Regions from separate parts of the Homo sapiens genome. Here regions 2, 3, 4 and 5 are each reported to be linked to region 1. Evidence: microRNA targets listed by miRTarBase, many of them from high-throughput screens and not tested one by one. Region 1 holds a microRNA gene; each other region holds the end of a gene's coding sequence.

Evidence for each region. The annotated mature microRNA hsa-miR-493-5p reads UUGUACAUGGUAGGCUUUCAUU and lies in region 1 at 1,826-1,847, shown strand. An mRNA with a match to its seed (bases 2 to 7 or 8) in the 3' UTR can be bound and repressed. Matches are read on the target gene's strand: a 7mer-m8 pairs with bases 2 to 8, a 7mer-A1 pairs with bases 2 to 7 and ends in A, and an 8mer does both.
Region 2: miRTarBase lists SMC3 as a target of hsa-miR-493-5p. Seed matches in the 3' UTR shown: 7mer-A1 at 3,242-3,248.
Region 3: the mRNA of LSM14A is a reported target of hsa-miR-493-5p. Seed matches in the 3' UTR shown: 7mer-m8 at 3,184-3,190.
Region 4: miRTarBase lists SOCS5 as a target of hsa-miR-493-5p. Seed matches in the 3' UTR shown: 7mer-A1 at 1,513-1,519.
Region 5: miRTarBase lists MRPS21 as a target of hsa-miR-493-5p. Seed matches in the 3' UTR shown: 7mer-A1 at 3,638-3,644.

The regions. Positions count from the first base shown.
Region 1 is chr14:100,867,250-100,871,370 of GRCh38, forward strand. It overlaps MIR493 (microRNA 493), which reads left to right and starts at 1,811; the gene lies at 1,811-1,899. RefSeq lists an enhancer at 290-459.
Region 2 is chr10:110,603,629-110,607,749 of GRCh38, reverse strand. It overlaps SMC3 (structural maintenance of chromosomes 3), which reads right to left. Exons shown (of 29, transcript NM_005445.4): 29 at 1,702-3,519. The coding sequence ends at 3,448. Among named protein-coding and RNA genes, the nearest start is that of SMC3, 38 kb to the right of the region's middle.
Region 3 is chr19:34,227,007-34,231,127 of GRCh38, reverse strand. It overlaps LSM14A (LSM14A mRNA processing body assembly factor), which reads right to left. Exons shown (of 10, transcript NM_015578.4): 10 at 1,840-3,763. The coding sequence ends at 3,740. Among named protein-coding and RNA genes, the nearest start is that of GARRE1, 25 kb to the left of the region's middle.
Region 4 is chr2:46,759,688-46,763,808 of GRCh38, forward strand. It overlaps SOCS5 (suppressor of cytokine signaling 5), which reads left to right. Exons shown (of 2, transcript NM_144949.3): 2 at 1-3,442. The coding sequence ends at 454. Among named protein-coding and RNA genes, the nearest start is that of LINC01118, 55 kb to the right of the region's middle.
Region 5 is chr1:150,307,814-150,311,934 of GRCh38, reverse strand. It overlaps MRPS21 (mitochondrial ribosomal protein S21), which reads right to left. Exons shown (of 3, transcript NM_031901.6): 3 at 2,956-3,887. The coding sequence ends at 3,707. Among named protein-coding and RNA genes, the nearest start is that of PRPF3, 12 kb to the left of the region's middle.

The DNA.
Region 1 (4,121 bases):
GGGCTCCTATGCCCATTAGCTCTGGGTTAGGCTCAGATGTATGTGCCGGGCTCCTGTTATGGGAGGGCTCAGAGCACAGGGGCCCCTGGCCTGGGAGCGGGTAGCTGTGTGCATGTGTGTGGGTGTGTGTGCCTCCATGAGCCTGTGTGTGCCTTCGTGAGCCTATGAGTGTGTGAGCATGCCCGGTGTGCACGTGTGTGGGTGCGTGTGCCTGCCAGTGCATGCGTATGCAGCTCTATGCTTGTGTGTATGTGCATGCGTGGGAGACAGATGGTGGAGAGCGACTGGGAGTGGGCGACAGTGGATCTGTCCCTGAGCCTACAGCACCCTGGGTGCCGATGCCACATCCACATCCTGCCCCCAGACCTGCTTCCCGGAGTCACCCATGCCTATATCCCCTGTGGCTTTGCCCATCAGTCCGTCTTTGTGTCCAGGTCTGCCTCAGTGGACAGAAGAGTGAGAGTCTTGGCCCTTGAACCCCTCCTCTTCTCCATCCTTCTCCACCTCCCCCCCTGCCTCTTCTTGGCAAAGCAGCTGGAGTGAGACCTGGGCTGAGGCCAAGGTTGGGGGTACTGTGCTCCCATGAGCTGCAGACACCGTCCTCTCACCGGCTCTCCCTCCTGTGTCCTGGAGTGGAACCCACCCCCGTTGCCCACCCCTTAACCCCTGCCCCCTTGTCTGGGGTTCTGGCCATCCCCCCCACCCCCACCCCCTAGTCTCCAGCTTCCAAGGCAGCTCCCAAGACAATGGGTTGAGCAAGGGGCAGGCTGGGTCCTGTGCCTAGCCCCTCAGCTCCCCCAGCCACTGCATGGGGCTTCTGCTGCTCTGTGGCACTGGCTGGGGAACCTCAGGACCAGATGGGGCCTCCCAGGCCTCGGCTACTGCATCACGCTCTGGACAGGGCCTTGGGCCCGGACGACGCCTGTGCCCGCCATGCCCTCTGGCCAGATGCTGCACCCTCCACCCAGCCTCCAGGTGAGTTCTCGTCATACCCACGGTGCCCCACCCTCCTTGGCATCCAGGTGATGCATCTACCTGAGGTTCCGAATCCAGGGGGGAAATGTTTGCCTTTGCACTGCATATTTACACACTGATTTGAATTGAGGGGTTCCCAAAATGACATCAGGCTTTTTCTGAAAAAGTCTGTTTTGCCCGATTGGTTTGCCAGTGAGGTTCAGAGTGGACAAATCAAAATGAGCTGATTCCAGACCTCTGAGGTTTTGACAAGTGCTCCATACCTAGCATTTGTCACATCTATATGCTATAGTATATGCCAGAGGCCACCTCATTGCAACTTTGTAAACTTCCTATTAACTTTTACGGCCCATTTAAAAATGGGCTATGGGAGGGGGAGATCCGTGGCTTTCCAAAATCCCTTCATGGGGTCTGTAAGCAGAAATGTCTGCTGCCCCCTGTTCCAGGGCACGTCCCACTCCTCACTGGCAGGGCTCTCGGGCTCACTGATTATTCTCTGAGGATCACACAGGGTCGATTTTCTGTGAATGCAAGTGCGTGGGGTGGGTGGTGGGGCGTCGAGCTGAACGCTGGTCTGGACAGGAAAGGCTCCTGCTTCATGTCCCACCTTGACCCTCAGAGGTTTCCAGGCCCAGCTCTTGGGCCCTGGCTTCCTCCTCTCCCTCTCGTCTTTGGGGGGGGTCCATCTCATGCATGTCTGTTACCATGGACTCCATCATCACGGCTCCCATCACCTCCATCTGGCCTCTGTCATCCTGGGCACAGCATCTCATCTCTGGCCATTCCAGCCTCCATCACCCGCCTCACCTCCATCATCCTCGCTTCGGGGCTCATTCTGGCCTCCAGGGCTTTGTACATGGTAGGCTTTCATTCATTCGTTTGCACATTCGGTGAAGGTCTACTGTGTGCCAGGCCCTGTGCCAGGCATCGTGTAGATGGACGTTGCCCTTGTGAGTGCACGCCTCGGGGAGACGCACGCCAGCCGGTGGATGGCAGGAGAGCCTGGGCCAGGGCTGGGGGTGGGGGCGTGGGTGTGGGCATGAGTGCAGAGGAGGGTGAGCTGGTTTCCAGAAGGGCGGGATCAGCTGGGGTGGTGGGCAGGGGGAGGAAGTGCGGGCTCAGCTGAGGTCCTGCTGTGTGGAGCCTGGAGGGAGAGATTGCATGTCCCCTCTCTATTCCCCATGGGTCATCTCAGTAATGGCTGCCGGAGTTCAGGGGTCCCTAGATTGCTCCCAAGGTCCTCACTCCCAAGTCCTTGGCAAGATTCCTGCGCCCCAGGAGCCTTTTGGCACCTGAACTCTGCCACCTAGTCTGCTGGTCAGCCTCTGTGCTGCCCGCGTTGGTGGGTGTCATTGGATTGTTAACGATGTACGTTTTGCTCTAAAATGATGGTGATTGAAGATGGGAATTATTTTGTCAGTTGATTTTAATGTTTTCTTTTTTGTGTGTGAAGTGTTTGTTGTGAAATATCTATTTTGGAAGTTTTTAGGTGTTGGAAAGCCAGAATCTGGGGCCCTCTGGTGTCTAGGAAGAACCTGTGATGCCCTGGGGTGAAGGGATGTGGACTCCCAGGGACAAAACAGTGGACTCTGAGGTCCTCAGGGTCACCTCCCTTTAGGGACTAGAGCACACTCAGTATTCGGGGGCCTCTGTGGTCTTTAAAGATGTCCCATGTTTGCTAAGGAAATGTTACTTTTGCTGGAGGAACTTCTGAAAAATGTTTAGAATTGTTTACCTGCATGTTTTATCTCGTTCAGAATTAGAATTGGTGGCATGTAGATATGCTTCTGGGTCTACCGAGATGAGGCAGGCCTACTGGGTCTCCACCTTCAGCTCAGGACACCCATCATTCACCTGGGAGGGGCTTGCTTCATTAGATGTTCACAAGGCTGAAAAGTGTCCCAGCCTCAAGTGTCACGTGGAGCCTCTTCCACATGCATCGCCAGAAGCGCCTCCTCCCCCATCACTCTGACCCCGCCCCACACAGACGTGTCACACTAGGCTCCTCCTCGAGTCATGTGTCACCGGTGGATGGCAGGAGAGCCTGGGCCAGGGCTGGGGGTGGGGGCGTGGGTGTGGGCATGAGTGCAGAGGAGGGTGAGCTGGTTTCCAGAAGGGCGGGATCAGCTGGGGTGGTGGGCAGGGGGAGGAAGTGCGGGCTCAGCTGAGGTCCTGCTGTGTGGAGCCTGGAGGGAGAGATTGCATGTCCCCTCTCTATTCCCCATGGGTCATCTCAGTAATGGCTGCCGGAGTTCAGGGGTCCCTAGATTGCTCCCAAGGTCCTCACTCCCAAGTCCTTGGCAAGATTCCTGCGCCCCAGGAGCCTTTTGGCACCTGAACTCTGCCACCTAGTCTGCTGGTCAGCCTCTGTGCTGCCCGCGTTGGTGGGTGTCATTGGATTGTTAACGATGTACGTTTTGCTCTAAAATGATGGTGATTGAAGATGGGAATTATTTTGTCAGTTGATTTTAATGTTTTCTTTTTTGTGTGTGAAGTGTTTGTTGTGAAATATCTATTTTGGAAGTTTTTAGGTGTTGGAAAGCCAGAATCTGGGGCCCTCTGGTGTCTAGGAAGAACCTGTGATGCCCTGGGGTGAAGGGATGTGGACTCCCAGGGACAAAACAGTGGACTCTGAGGTCCTCAGGGTCACCTCCCTTTAAGGACTAGAGCACACTCAGTATTCGGGGGCCTCTGTGGTCTTTAAAGATGTCCCATGTTTGCTAAGGAAATGTTACTTTTGCTGGAGAAACTTCTGAAAAATGTTTAGAATTGTTTACCTGCATGTTTTATCTCGTTCAGAATTAGAATTGGTGGCATGTAGATATGCTTCTGGGTCTACCGAGATGAGGCAGGCCTACTGGGTCTCCACCTTCAGCTCAGGACACCCATCATTCACCTGGGAGGGGCTTGCTTCATTAGATGTTCACAAGGCTGAAAAGTGTCCCAGCCTCAAGTGTCACGTGGAGCCTCTTCCACATGCATCGCCAGAAGCGCCTCCTCCCCCATCACTCTGACCCCGCCCCACACAGACGTGTCACACTAGGCTCCTCCTCGAGTCATGTGTCACATGAGACACCCCCGTGTGTCACTTCCAGCCCTGACTACTCAGTGTCACTTGGAGCCTTTTGTCCCTCCCCAATGTACCA
Region 2 (4,121 bases), not on the chromosome of region 1:
TTAAACACTGGTATTCTCCCTTTGTGGGAAGCTGAATCAAAGTACTAGTCCTTTTATTAAGAGAGTTTTGGTTTTTTTTTTGTTTTTTTTTTTTTTTGACGGAGTCTCGCTGTGTCTCCCAGGCTGGAGTGCAGTGGTGCGATCTCAGCTCACTGCAACCTCCACCGCCCAGATTCAAATGATTCTCCTGCCTCAGCCTCCCAAGCAGCTGGGACTATAGGCCCGCATCACCTCACCCGGCTAATTTTTAGTAGAAACAGGGTTTCACCATGTTGGCCAGGCTGGTCTTGAACTCTTGACCTTAAGTGATCCGCCTGCCTCAGCTTCCCAAAGTGCTGTGATTACAGGCACCGAGCCACCGCGCCTGGCCTAGATAGTTGTTAAAAGAGAAACACCTTTTAAGAATTAACTAAATATTTCCAAAGACCCGTTTGCTATTGCTTTTTTTTTTTTTTTTGAGATGGAGTCTCGCTCTGTCGCCCAGGCTGGAGGGCAGTGGCACGATCTAGGCTCACTGCAAGCTCTGCCTCCCGGGCTACCGCCATTCTCCTGCCTCAGCCTCCACAGTAGCTGGGACTACAGACGCCCACCACCACGCCCGGAGAATCTTTTGTATTTTTAGTGGAGACGGGATTTCACCAGGTTAGCCAGGATGGTCTCGATCTCCTGACCTTGTGATCCACCCACCTTGGCCTCCCAAAGTGCTGGGATTACAGGCGTGAACCACCGTGCCCGACCGGCTATTGCTTACTCTTAAAAAAGAAATCCTCCCTTTCTATTTCTCCCTTTTCTACTGATTATATTATTCACAGTAAAATTATTTCTATAAATTACATCATTTTCTAAAATTACTATTTCACTAATTTTGAGTAGACAAATCCTTAACCTACATACTAACCATTTCATATTTTACATTTTTTTCAAAAAGAGCATAAAGAGTATACAAAAATCCTTACAAATATTCACACTCTGACTTCTAGGAATCTACGCTGGGAAAATAATCCTAAATGTTGGGAGTTTTATGTATAAAAATGTTGATCTGTTTTTTAATTCATTTTTGGTACTTTAGCCAAAAGAAAACGATCTAAGCCTCCAGTGGGATATTTAAGTAAATTATGCTACTTCTACTTGACAGAATAGTATATGACTATTAAAATCTTGTTTCCAAAGCATTAAAACAGGAATATTTTATATTATTACTAAATTAAAAATCTAAGATATAAAATTATACACCTAGAATAAACATAAACCACAAAACTTTTTATGAAGATTTGAAGGAAATGCCCCAAAATATTAATATTGGCAGGCCAAAGCAGAAGATCACCTGAGCCCAGGAGTTCAAGGTTGCAGTGAGCTGTGATCCTGCCACCGCACTCCAGCGTGGGTGATGGGATGAGACCCCCCCCACCATCTCTTAAAATATATGTTCTTCAATTCCACTATGGTGAATGTAATGTATTTGTAACAGTATTAACAAAATCTCAAAGTGGAAGAATCAGTACTACTCTGAGGAAAGGACTATCCAGCCAAAGAGAAGCATAGATTTTCTTATGAATCACTGGCTAACTCCTTGGGTAAATGTCTGTCCTTCCTCTAAGTTTCTGGGTTAAGCATGCTCAGGATTGTCACATTTTTCTATTCAGTCTCATTAGAATTAATTCATGACTAAGATATCGCAAAGAATATAGGCTTTTACAAAAATTTTGTTTCATTATTTAGATGCTTTATTGTTATAAATTTACTGGCATTTCATTATACTAATATCCTTGGGGAAATGCTTAAGAACAATATTAAGAAGTTCTAGAATGATGTTATGTTTGTAACATCCCTTGAATTGAATCCTGGAACTTACCTTACACCAAATTCTGTATTATAAGGGGTTGGTCATATCAGAGCAACTCTACAAATCGTAAACTATACACCAAGCATTCATGATGAATATTCTTAGGTAGTTGTTTGAGAAAAATTCTTGGGTAAATGTGTAAGAAAAATGGTAGAAATATTAGAAAGATATTATAGTTACGTAACCCTTTGAATGTAGTCATAGATAGAACATATACCAAATTCTCTATTATAGATCAGTTATGTTATAGCAAAGCTACAAAGTATAAATAATACACCGAACATTTAAAGATTCAGCCAGTCAAAATGAAAACCCAAAGTAAACTCACATTTTTAAATTCAATTTAAAGTCCCATTACTATTTCTTTATTTTAAAAGTATCTCTTTAGGTATTTCTGGTTTCCAATGATGGAAGAGTAGCTCCTAACAAATTCTCCTGCAGATAACCAGTATAAACTCAGGCCAGGGGAAATCAAGAAAAAGAAATTAAAGGTAAATATTTGAAAAGGAAGAAATAAAACTGCCTCTTTCTTGCAAATGACATGACTGTCTATGTAGAAAATCTCAAAGAATCTACAAAAAGCTACGAGGACTATTGAGGTAGTTTTCCAGGGTCACAGGAGACCCCCAGTGCTTAAAGACCTACTTTCAAAGAAAAGAGTAGTATGGAAAGGGAAAAAAATGTAACTTCACAACAAAGAAACCTGGCAAGTACAATGTTGGGTAGGTGATCAAGGTAAACATCAGTGATAAAACATGTTAATAATATGTACTATTATATGAGGTAATGAGAATACTTCGCTTCTGTGGTATTAGCTCCAATCTAACCATGAGAAAAATATTAGACAAACCTAATTTGAGGGACATTCTACAAAATATGTGAATATTATTCAAAATTGTCAAGATATGATAAACAATGACAGAGAAATTGTCACAGACTAGAGGAGATGTAAGTAAATGTAATGTATCCTCTGTGGGATCCTAGAAAAGAAAAAGGGCCTTAGTGGAAAAACTAGTCAAATCTGAATAAAATCTTGAGCTTAGTTGATAGTAATGTATCAATGATAAATATACCATGGTAGGGGCTGATTTTGTGCTTCCCTTCCCAAACTCACATGTTGAAGTCCTAACCCTCAATACCTCAAATTTAACTGTATTTGGAGACAGGTCTTTTAAAGAGGTGATTAAGTTAAAATGAGGCCTTACATCCAATCTGATTAGTGTTCTCACTGGAAGAGACTATGACAAATGAAAAGCCACATAAAACACTATATTAGTCATAAAACCGATTATTTAATTGAAGCTATAAAAAAGGTAGTATAAGTGATAAAATAATTAGGAAAGAATATTTAGCATGTTTCAAAACATTTAAAATAGGAGCAGAACATTTTACAAAAAGTTGTACAGGAAATTAAATTCTTAAACTATCAGTACAAACATGACATTACAGAGTATCTTATAAAATACAAAGACAAATATAAAAGGACTATGATGCTTTAAGTCTGAAAACTATTGGCCAAATATTTAGGTTTAAATTTACAGTTCCTGGGTATGAGAATCATATTACTATATACATCTCCCAAACCAGTAGGTAGTATTTTCCAATTAACCATGTGTGGTATCATCTTCTACAAAGTCTTTGGCCATCTCTGCTGTGATCACATCAATATGACTAACCTGAAGAATAAATGTTAAAAACAAAAATCTGTTAATTACATCAGTGTTTACATTGTATAGGGTAAATATATACAGCCTATCAACTACATTTAACTACATTTTTTAATTTTTAGTTTTTTTTTTTTTTTTTTTTTTTGAGATGGAGTCTTGCTCTGTTGCCCAGGCTGGAGTGCAGTGGCACCATCTTGGCTCACTGCTACCTCCGCCTCCCAGGTTCAAGCAATTATTCTGCCTCAGACTCCCAAGTAGCTGGGACGACAGGTGCACGCCAGCATGCCCAGCTAATTTTTGTATTTTTAGTAGAGACGGGGGTTTCACCATACTGGCCACGTTGGTCTCAAACTCCTGACCTGGTTATCTACCTGCCTTGGCCTCCCAAAGTGCTGGGATTACAGGCATGAGCCATTGCGCCCGGCCTATCACCTATATTTTACATATGAAGGAAAATAATTCTGAAGCACTGACTTATAAAACCTTTATTTACAGTGGTGTTTGTTCAATGCATAGATTTAAAAAATATGTATTTTAATGCTCTGAAGAAATAAATATCATGCCTAAACATCTAAACTACCTTTTTGTTCACTTTCTATTACTTTGCTATT
Region 3 (4,121 bases), not on the chromosome of region 1:
GAAGGGGTCCCTGATCCCTGGGCAGCAGAACGGTCGTGGTCCGTGGTCTGTTAGGAACCAGCCTGCACAGCGGGTGAGAGGCGGGCTGATGAGTGAGCATTACCATCCGAGCTCCACCTCCTGTCACATCAGCAGCAGCATTAGATTCTCATAGGGTTGGAAACCCTATCGTGAGCTCTGCATGCAAGGGACCTCGGTTGCGCACTCACTGATCATGCCCGATGATCTGTCACTGTCTCCCATCACCCCCAGATGGGACCATCTAGTTGCAGGAAAACAAGCTCAGGCCTCCCATTGATTCTACATGATGGTGAATTGTGTAATTATTTCATTATATATTACAATGTAATAATAGAAATAAAGTGCACAATAAATATACTTGAATCACCCCAAAACCATACCCCCTGCTCATCTGTGGAAAAACTGTCTTTGGTGAAACCAGTCCCTGGTGCCAAAAAGGTTGGGTTCTGCTGTACTAGGGAACTTCAGAATCACTCTCTGGGCCTGGGAATCTGTACTTAAAAATGCTCCTTGGTAGATTCTGATCAGAGATTTGTGAAGCACTGACAGAGAACAGGATGAAGCCCTAACTCCTATGTGGTAATGTTTCCACAATGCTGATGTGCTACAGGAAGTAAGTTCCCTTTATTATTAATATTCCCAAGCGGACAATTTCCTAAGTAGTAAATTTTTTTTTTCAAGTTGGCAGGAAATAATTTCCCACTTACTGTCTTTCCATGTGGAGGGACTTTAGCCAGTGTTTCTCAGAGTAGAGGAGCACTACTGCACTTTGGGTTGGACAACTGATTGTGTGGCACAGCACAGGACATTTACCATCCGGGCCCTTACTTTTAAATACCAGTGGTGATCCCCAGTGATTGTGACAACCAAAACACATCCCCTCACATTCCTCAGTACTCACGCACCACTTAATGATGTTTTGGTCAACGATGGACTGGGTATACAATGGTGGTCCCAAAGATTATGATACCGTATTTTTACTATACTTTTTCTGTTTAGATATGTTTTAAATACAGAAATACCACTGTGTTATGACTGCCTACAGTATTCAGTACAGTAACATGCTGTACAGGTTTGTAGCGAGGAGCAACAGGCTACACCATATAGCTTAGGTGTGGAGTAGGCCATACCATCTTCATTTGTGTAGTACACTCTCTGATGTTCACACAATGATGACATTGCTTAACACATTTCTCAGAATGTGTCATGGCCGGGCCTGGTGGCTCATGTCTGTAATCTAGCACTTTGGGAGGCCAAGATGGGAGGATCATTTGAGCCCAGGAGTTAGAGACCAGCCTGGGCAACGAAGTGAGACCTCATTGCTATTTAAAAATAAGAACATGTCGCTATTATTAAGCAACAGATGACTGTGTTCCTAGGATGTCAGGTAACCCCACCGAGAGCCACTGTGCTGCACTGCTGTTCCCGACCTCTTGCCCTACCATCACATGAAGCCCAGCTTTTGGAGCGAACTGTTTTAATAGACAGATTCTGCATCTTCTTCATGCGTCTGCCCACAGGGAGTGTGTTCTGGCTGCTGTTTCCAGCCTGGCCTGTGCCTGGGTGGCTCAATCTCCTCATGTCACGGATCTGATCTCAGAAGTATTTTATTTACACACAGGAGGGGAAGGAAGGGGCTTTTAGCTTTCCCTAAACATCTGCAACAATAACTCAATCTTAGAAATAAAGTAACTGATTTATAGTTATTACAGGGAATACAAACATTATAATTCCGCTCTTCCATTTAAAAGATTCCTTTCATTATGTTCCTACTGAAACAGAATGTTACTATTTAAAGAGAAAGAACTTTGACGAGCATTTTTTATTGAACAGTTTTATTCTGTTTTAGAATAAAAACTTTGCTTTAATATTGTAAGGGGTACTGCAGGTATGCCATGCTGCCAGTTATTGCTGGGGCACAAAACGCCCCAGTCAGTGATTCGGAGGGCTGGGAAAACGCATAAACTCATAATTTCAGAGCAAGTAGAACTAGTATTTACAGTTTTCTTTCTTGAAATTGGCCCGGGACATCTCCAACAGTCTACACATGTATTGCCATGGTACTTGCTCTGATGCTCTGAATGCCTCGGAACTGTGTTCAATATCATGATTTGTGGGTCCTCTAAAAGGTTTTGTTGTTAACATGCAAGCAAACAGCACTGAACAATATTGTCTAAACTATGGCTGCCAAGTACTGGATCTTCATAATGAAACCAAATTACAAAACACTGCCTTGTAGAGCTATACAAAAGATATAAAATGAAAATAAAAAATGTCAACCAGCCTTAAATATTCCAATTCTCCTACAGTGCAGTTTCTATATCTTTATCACTACTGAATGTTTTAAGGAGAAAGTTAAGAAAACAATCAAAATATTAGATAAAAATATTTAAATCTTTGGATCCTTTTATTCCATGGCCTTCATAAAAACACAAAAGTGGCCAGATTTTTCCCACTAGAGCTTAAAATATCAAAAAGATTCACTAGTAATTTATAATTAGCAATGAACTCTATACTGAGTCATCTGTGGGTCATCATAGGCCCAAGGACCAGTGTTGCCGTGTGTTACAGGCTACCAAAATAATTTCTAGCACTCTGAATCCTCTTGAAATATGATGGAATGAGTCAAGGTATCATGACTAAATTCCAGGCATAATAGGAAAAACAGGTTCATTGATGCCTAGTTTTAAAGTCCTACAAAAGGGGGGAAGATTACTTATTTGAAAATACAGCTAAGTACATTCTCATCTGTGATTATTTACATTTGTATACTGAAAATATCGATTATCTGGACAGATCCTGTGATATGCCATTTGCTACAAAATGAAGTTCTTACAATGAGCATGAATAATTAATCCTTTTTAGATAATGAAATAATGTATCAAATCTTCATTTATGTTCCAAACATTAAAAAACAAAATCAAAAATGTTAAGCCTGGAAAACTAAGAAAAAAAGACCCACCCATAAGGCTGCTGCTCAGCACATCAACTTCTGCAAGGACACAGTATGTTTGCTGACTTTAAAATGTTTATTCTTTAAAAAATTAGTTGCTTTTTATACAGCTATACAAAGTTCTTAATGTTTCTTTGGCAATGGAATATAATGGAATTTTACAACTATATAAAAAAGTTACCTTTGCCTAAGAAACAGTATTTACTGTGTGTACATAGTTGACTGACAAAATTCTCTACCATCCAGCACCCTAATTAATTGACGAAATAAGCTACCTCATATTACAGGATTCCCCAAAAGAAAGGAGGAAAAAGACACACACATACACACACACACACACACACACACACACACACACACACAACCTTCTGTGGCTCAAAACACAGTATCACGGCCCTATCTGCAGGCAACTTGCAATTGCCAAATACAATTTAGTGATAAAAAAAAAAAACCTTTCAGTGATGAAAAAATACTTGTTAAGTCCCACTGAAGTACTGCTTTAGTTTAACTATACATAAGAAATTACTTAACCTTCTGCTATTCCAAATATATTTAATGCTCATGTTTTAAGATGAGCCTTCCACCCCCAAAAGTAACTGCATTTTATCTTTGAAATTAAGCGGAAAAACAAACAAAAAACAAAAACCCAGTGCTGGTGACAAATGTACAGCGAATTCACTTCTTCATTCTTTGCAAAGACTGAAATCAATGTTCAGGACCATGAAGAGCTAGAAATTCACCTATTTTCAGAGACTTGTTTGTAGACTATGCAGCAACTTTGTTGTCTTTCTAAAAAAGAAAAAAAAATTTAGCTCATGTTCCAAATTATTGGTGTATTATTTTCTTTTTACTTTGCTCAAGTTTATTTTAAATTATCTTTAAATATACTCCCCCACTTTTACTTTCATAGAAAAACCTGTCTCACTCATTTCCACGAAACTCCTTCTATAACTTCCATACTCAGTAGTACCTCATTGTTGACTGCATCTTCCAGTCAGTAGAGGTTAATGCAGTGGTGAACCCCACCCCAAAATACAGGCATACTTCCTCATCTTTGGTTGTTCTCCCTAATAATTTTTTAAAAGCAGTGATAGGACTTAAACCCTCAACTCAATAGTCAAACTCATCAAATACAACTGTCAACATA
Region 4 (4,121 bases), not on the chromosome of region 1:
GGACCGTTATGAAGCAGAAGCCCTTCTCGAAGGGAAACCTGAAGGCACGTTTTTGCTCAGGGACTCTGCGCAAGAGGACTACCTCTTCTCTGTGAGCTTCCGCCGCTACAACAGATCCCTGCATGCCCGAATTGAGCAGTGGAATCACAACTTTAGTTTCGACGCCCATGACCCGTGTGTATTTCACTCCTCCACTGTAACGGGACTTTTAGAACATTATAAAGATCCCAGTTCGTGCATGTTTTTTGAACCATTGCTTACTATATCACTAAATAGGACTTTCCCTTTTAGCCTGCAGTATATCTGTCGCGCGGTAATCTGCAGGTGCACTACGTATGATGGAATTGATGGGCTCCCTCTACCCTCAATGTTACAGGATTTTTTAAAAGAGTATCATTATAAACAAAAAGTTAGAGTTCGCTGGTTGGAACGAGAACCAGTCAAGGCAAAGTAAACTCTCCGGTCCCCAAAGGTTGTTAACTAGGTCCGCTTTCATGTGCATCAGACAGTACACCTATAGCAAGCACACGTAGCAGTGTTAGGCTTTTTCATACAGTATGTAAGCTTAGTGTTAGTATCTGTCAGATGCTACCTGCTGTTACTTATTCAGATAAACATGGTGCCTATTGGAACAATAGCGGATAGAGCTACAGGTGTTCAGTAAGACTACAAAAACATTTTGCCTATTTCGCTAACAGTTTGGTTTTTAATGGCTGTGGTATTTGAGTGAGGCAACTCTGGGGCATTTGTTATGAAGAATTCTATTTCTTACTGAAGAACAAATTATTAATATTGGATGAGTATTTCAACAGTGTGACTAATGTTTGAAATTATTTTTTCTAAGAGTTTTTCTATAACCTTCCAAAAGTCGTGATGTTTGTAGTTACTATAAATCAAGCTTTGGAAGTCCAAAAAGAATAAAAGACTGCCTTCCTTTTAGAAAAAAATGCAATTTTCTGGCCACAAGGGCATAGTGCAGTTCACTTACGTGTTGATGTAGTTTATAATCAGACGCCTTTTCTCTTCTGCAAAAGGTACTGTTAAGTAAACCAGATTTTCTAAATAGGCATTCTTAAAATTTCAGACTTACAAAGCTAGTAGTAGAATTTTATTGAAAGGCCTAGGTATTAATTTTTTAAATGAGTGCTTTAACTTAAAACAGGCGTTTGGAATAGCTGCTGCAATGTAGTCTTGTGTGTGATTTTTTTTTAAGTTGATGTGCAGTCTAATTGTTGTTTCATAAAAGTTGGATCTGTTCCTATGCCCAGGATGATTTTGTGAACCGTGAAGTACGTGAGACTAGAAGACGCCCAAACAAGTCAGATAATAGTAACTACAATGGTTGCTGATGTTGAGATTATTGTTGAACTATAATTAATAATTTGGATGGCAGAATTTATCTCTTTTTTGTAAACTCTCATAACTGAATTGCTTAAGTATAATTTATAGAATTTCAGTGCAGTTCATTCTTAATGGAAAATCTGAAACCTAAATTGCAGATTTAAAAGGTACTGTACAACCATTATATCTGTAAATAACTTAGCACCTTTTTGTCACTTAGAATAATATGTACTACTACTTGAGTGAGCGCTTTTGGAAGTTATATCAAGTTCTAGTGTTTGCTTCTTAGTAACTGAACTGAATTTACAGTTCTGTCCTAGACATTTTGCACTAAAGTAGCCGAATCCACTCTCATGTCTTTTCGTTAATGTGCTCTGTACCACTGGTGAGTGCTCCATAGTTTCCTTACCTGCTGCTACAGAATGTTATTTTACATCCCTATGGCTATTGCCAAGGCTACAAAAAAGGAAAGCTATATTTGTATGCAACACTAACCTTTTGACTGCTAATGTATGTTTCTGCTTGCTGTGCCTTGTTATGGCTGCTTTTTTTGTGCTAATAAAGTATGTTTGGTGTTCTCCTTGTATATCTGCTGTTTTATACATTTGCAACAATTTCTCTTGTAAATGGAATGGTTTGGGGTTTTTAAATAAGCATTAACTAACAACCTTTCTATAGTTAATGCAGAGTTAATGAACAGTCTAATATTGACTTATCAGAATAAGCTAACTCTAAATTTAATGCTCTACATCTTATCAGTCATAATTATATATACTGTGGAACAGTATCTGTAGTTACTGCAAATTACTGTACAGTTTAGGTTATAACAGAAAACTGACAGAGAAGTAATAAACCTATTGATTTCTCTGCTTATAAATGAAAGATTGAAACTATCCAATGACATATTATAGTAAATGAGTATCTGTAACCTCCCACTGCATCAGAAGCAGGTTAAATGAAGTCTTGTGAATTTGTAATAGATCAGTACCATTTATTGGTTTGGGGACCATCTTAATTAAAAATAAATGCCCAAAATGTAGAACTTTAACCAAAGACTTGTCCCTTTTAAAGCAAAATGGGGATTGAAGGGACTTATAATTTCTGTTGTTTCTAATTAAAGTCCCTGAAGATCATATACCAAAGTGTTTGAGAACTTCATCCAAACCTACTTTAAAGCATTATGTGCAATTAAGTTGTTATGACATAATTATATTGCCTAATTGTTGGGTCTTTTTTCTTGAGCTTATAATGTACCTGGAAAATAAACCTCTTGAGAAAAAGAAAAGTTCATACTGATTATTGGAAAAGGACTATATATGTGAGCAAGATTGTGTTTTAGAGAGGAAACTTGAAACTCCAAGAAAGCACTTGATGTTTTTATATGCTTGTAGCAAATTGATGTTCTAACTGTAGTTTTATAGAAAGTATTAATGCTTTTATGTATTTCAAAACTTTCATATGTTAAATGGAAATTGTTTTAAATGTGTTTGAGTTTATGTAAGCATGTATACACTGTGCTAAAAGTCACATGTTTCAGTTTGTGTATAATATTAATATGCAATTTTTGGTTTAAATTTTTGTCTTAAAATATTAGTGGCTTACATTTTAAAAAAGAAAAATCACCAGCATGAACTTGCACCTAAGTCTATATTCACTGTGTCCTTTTCTGAATCCCATTGTAGCCTGTCAACTAAATTTGAGTGTTAACGGTCTTTTTAAAGTGCATTTAAATACAAACCAGGAATTTCTTTAGAAGTTGAGATACATCTTTATAGTTGAAATAATTAACCCAAGAAAAGGTTGCTTTGATTTGTACCCATTCTCATTCATTTTCTTCATTCCCTTACACACACACACACACCTCTCCCTTCCGCATACATATAAGTGTGTATTATATATTTATGTATGCACATATATACATTTATGTTGTTAATATTACTTTAGATGGCATTTCCACCTGATACAAAAACATTTAGAGATCTTATTCTATAGATATTACCTAAAGAGTATTCTTGTACTATTCGAATTTTATTATCTGCACTAAAAGTTTAGCCTTGCTACTTTAGCCTTGTTTATAATACAGTCACCTTACAAAGAGAAAGAGTTCATCTGTATTTTGTTTTCTGGCTAAACACAGTACAAAATATTTGAAGAAAAACAGCTTGGATTAAATAGTTACTAAGAGTTATAATTAAATTTATGTTTCTTAGACAAAACTTGAGCCCAAATAATCATTCTCCACACACCAGGCTGTTTTTAGCTCTTATGTTTACGTAAGATTTATAATGGCTAGAACCGTAAGAACTGATACTTGAATTTTAAGCTTCATTTGACAAAATCGAAAGCTTAAGAATTTTTTTATTTCACATTTTGATCTGGTTGCTATTTATGTTTATTTCAAAGCTTGCTTTTCTCTCTGGCACTGAACACTAATTTGGTGAGTTTTATTGAGACTGGTCTTAGATCTCTTATTTTTATAGCAAATACTGCTTTTTGGTAGAGCCAAAGAGCCTGTGAGTGAATCAGGACCCTCCTTTTTTTTTGTTTTTTTTTTTGTTTTGTTTTGTTTTTGCGACAAGAGTCTCACTCTTGTCACCCAGGCTGGAGTGCAGTGGCCCGATCTTGGCTTACTGCAACCTCTGCCTCCCAGGTTCAAGTGATTCTCCTGCCTCAGCCTCCTGAGTAGCTGGGATTACAGGCGCCCACCACCACGCCCGGCTAATTTTTGTATTTTTAGTAGTGACGGGGTTTCACCATGTCAGCCAGGCTGGTCTCGAACT
Region 5 (4,121 bases), not on the chromosome of region 1:
AGGCCTCTCAACTGGCTAGCTGCTAAAACCCATCATTGTTCATTGCTCTAGGGGAGCATGGGCAATAGGACTGAAGATTAAAACAAGCGGGGGATAATTTTTAGAGACAAAGAAAATTTCAAATCTCAGCCACCTCTTAGTATTTTGGAGGGAGCTCAGAAGCAACTTTAGCCCCAGGAGAATAATGCCAAGTAACAGGCCTGATTCTGTTATCACAAACATGCCTTACCACTGTGGTAGATGACACTATATTATGGCTCAATATCATTAAAATGTACTAAAGACCAAATTCAGATTTATTTTATTTTATTTATTTATTTTTGAGACGGAGTCTCGCTCTGTCACCCAGGCTGGAGTGCAGTGGCGCCATCTCGGCTCACTGCAAGGTCTGCCTCCGGGGTTCACGCCATTCTCCTGCCTCAGCCTCCCGGGCGCGGTGGCTCACGCCTGTAATCCCAGCACTTTGGGAGGCCGAGGCGGGTGGATCACGAGGTCAGGAGATCAAGACCATACTGGCTAACACGGTGAAACCCCGTCTCTACTAAAATTAAAAAAAAAAATTAGCCACGCGCGGTGGCGGGCGCCTGTAGTCCTGGCTACTCGGGAGGTTGAGGCAGGAGTATGGCGTGAACCCGGAAGGCGGAGCTTGCAGTGAGCCGAGATCACGCCGCTGCACTCCAGCCTGGGCAATAGAGCGAGACTCCGTCTACAAAAAACAAAAAAAAAGGTAGTGACGGAGTTTCATCGTGTTAGCCAGGATGGTCTTGCTCTCCTGACCTCGTGATCCATCCTCCTCGGCCTTCCAAAGTGCTGGGACTACAGGCGTGAGCCACCGCGCCCGGCCTCAGATTCAGATTTAAAGGTGACTCAGAAGTGTCATATCTTGTTTGTTAAGACTAGGTTGTATAAAGGGAACAAAGTTGAAGGCAGCCTGTATACAGATTTTCTCCAAAATGAGGGAAAGGAGCAGATCTATTTCTTTTTCCTTTTTTTTTTTTGGGGACGCTCCGTTGCCCAAGCTGGAGTGCAGTGGCGCGATTTCGGCTCATTGCAAGCTCTGCCTCCCGGGTTCACGCCATTCTCCTGCCTCAGACTCCCAAATAGCTGGGACTACAGGCGCCCGCCACCATGCCCCGCTAACTTTTTTGTATTTTCAGTAGAGACGGGGTTTCACCATGTTAGCCAGGATGGTCTCGATCGCCTGACCTTGTGATCCGCCCACCTCGGCTTCCCAAAGTGCTGGGATTACAGGCGTGAGCCACTGTGCCTGGCCAGCACCAACTTTTAAAAGAGACCGAGTCTTGCTCTGTCGCCAGGCGCGATCTTGGCTCACTGCAACCTCCACCTCCTGCGTTCAAGTGATTCTCCTGCCTCAGCCTCCCAGGTAGCTGAGATTACAGGCGCCTACCACCACGCCCAGCTAATTTTTTTGTATTTTTAGTAGAGACAGGGTTTCACCATGTTGGCTAGGCTGGTCTCAAACTCCTGACCTCGTGATCCGCCCGCCTCAGCCTCCCAAAGTGCTGAAATTACAGGCGTGAGCCATGGCACCCGGCCTGGCACCGACTCTTAATAATAGCAACACGGCTGTCAGCCAACCAATGGTGGAGGAAACAGCAGGAGAAAAAGCAGAGCAGCTGGTCTTCCCACAGTGGTCAGTTTCCGCAGCTGTCAAGAGTAAAATAATCAGGAGTGACTGCTGGGTAGAGGCAGTGATGGTGGGAACCTCCACTTGAAGTCTCTTTGAGTACTGCAAAGGGCAGTGGTTGTAACTCTAGCAGGCATCAGAATCACCTGCAAGGCTTGTGAAAATAGATTGCTGGGCTCCAACCTCAATTTCCAATATCGAAGATCTAAAGTAGGGTCCCATAATTTGCATTTCAAGCAATCCCTCTGGTGAAATTGATGCTGCTGATCTGACACTTTGAGAAGCACTGCTTTGTGGGTATTTCTGGCTCTGTGCCATTCTCTCTCAACGCTCCATTCCCTCTTTCCTACTATCTACTGAGTCCCACCCATCTATTGCTTTATTTCTTCTCCACCATCCCTCTCTTAGTCTCTGTTAGGAAAACTAAAAGGACAGAAAACAGGAATGAACATTAGGGTAGATTTAAGAATTTCTTTGGGCAAGGATTCCAGCACTCTAGTCTGGTTGATAGGTGTTTTCAGAAGCAGAATTTATTCCAAATACATACATGCATCTTCTCCTCTCTACCTAACATGGAACAGTTTAATAAAAAGTAATAGATGCTTTCTCAGTAAGATTTTGCTTGGGGATTCAAAAAAATTGGGTAGGAAATGGTAGACATATTTCACTACATTAAAAAAATTTTCCGGCCGGGCGCAGTGGCTCACGCCTGTAATCCCAACACTTTGGGAGGCCAAGGCAGGGGGATCACGAGACCAGGAGATCGAGACTATCCTGGCTAACACAGATAAACCCCATCTCTACTAAAAACACAAAAATTAGCCGGGCGTGGCGGCGTGTGCCTGTAGTCCCAGCTGCTGGGGAGGCTGAGGCAGGAGAATGGCGTGAACCCAGGCGGCGGAGCTTGCAGTGAGCTGAGATTGTCCCACTGCCCTCCAGCCTGGGCAACAGAGCGAGACTCCATCTACAAAAAAAAAAAAAAAATTTACCAGCCAGGTATGGTGGCTCATGCCCATAATCCCAGCACTTTGGGAGGCCGAGGTGGGCGGATCACCTGAGGTCAGGAGTTCGAGACCAGCCTGGACAACATGGTGAAACCCCGTCTCTACTAAAAATACAAAAATTAGCTGGGCGTGGTGGCAGGTGCCTGTAGTCCCAGCTTCTGGGGAGGCTGAGGCAGGAGAATCACTTGAACCCAGGAGGCGGAGGTTGCAGTGAGCCTAGACTGCACCATTGCACTCCAGTCTGGGGGACAAGAGCGAGACTTCCTCTTAAAAAAAAGAAAAAAAAATTCCTTACTTCTCCTGGACTTTCAAAAAAGTTTTTATTGTAGTAAAACACAAAATTTACCATCGTGACCATTTAAGGGTATAGTTCAGTGGCATTAAGTACATTCAACTTTTTGAGCAACCGCCATCACCATTCATCATCCATCTCCGTTTTTTTGTTTTGAGATGGAGTCTCACTCTGTCGCCCAGGTTGGAGTGCAGTGGCATGATCTTGGCTCACTGCAACCTCTTCCTCCCCAGTTCAAGCAATTCTCCTGCCTCAGCCACCCAAGTATCTGGGATTACAGGCGTGCACCACCACGCCCGGCCAATTTTTTTTTGTATTTTTAGTAGAGATGGGGTTTCACCACATTGGCCAAGCTGGTCTCAAACTCCTGGCCTCAAGTGAGCCGCCCGCCTCAGCCTCCCAAAGTGTTGGGATAACAGGCGTGAGCCACCATGCCAGGCCATCGTCTCCTGAACTTTTTCATCTGCCCAAACTGAAACTCTGTACCCATTAAACAATAACTCCTCACTGCCCCCTCCTCCAGTCCCTGGCAAATACCATTCTACTCCTAGAGTACTTTCAGACTCAGTTTCTTCTTTCACTTAATAAAAGACAGGGTCCACTGCTGACTAATGGGATTGTTTCTATATTTGGAGGCCTTCTTGCAGACATGTGATTTGAGTTTATTGCAGAGAATGGTAATAGGAAATGGGATTGTACAAAGAAAAGAGATGGAGAGAAAACTGGATGAGGGTTTCGCACTGGGTGTCCCACCCACAGGCCTCAGCAGCCCTGCCACGGATCTGCCCGATTCTTTCGCATCAAGAAGTTGATCTTGCGAGCCATTTCCATGTTGTAGATCCGCCGGCACCTTTCATAGCTTTCCCTCTGTCGCCGGCAGCATGGCTTCTCATAATACCGCCGATGCTTAATGTCCTCAATGAGCCCATCCATAGTGAGGATTCTGTATAAAGGCAAGCAATGAGGTTAGACATTTGGGATCATCATTATTCTTTTCCAGTTTCATAAATAGAAGTCGATTGACCAAACAATTGGTATTTATAAAAAATACAGTGGGAAATGGTGGCAATAGAGCATTAACTGCCTACTTACAAAGGCCTCAATAAGAATCTGTGGGCCGGGTGCAGTGGCTCATGCCTGTAATCCCACCACCCTGGGAGCCCAAGGTGAGCAGATT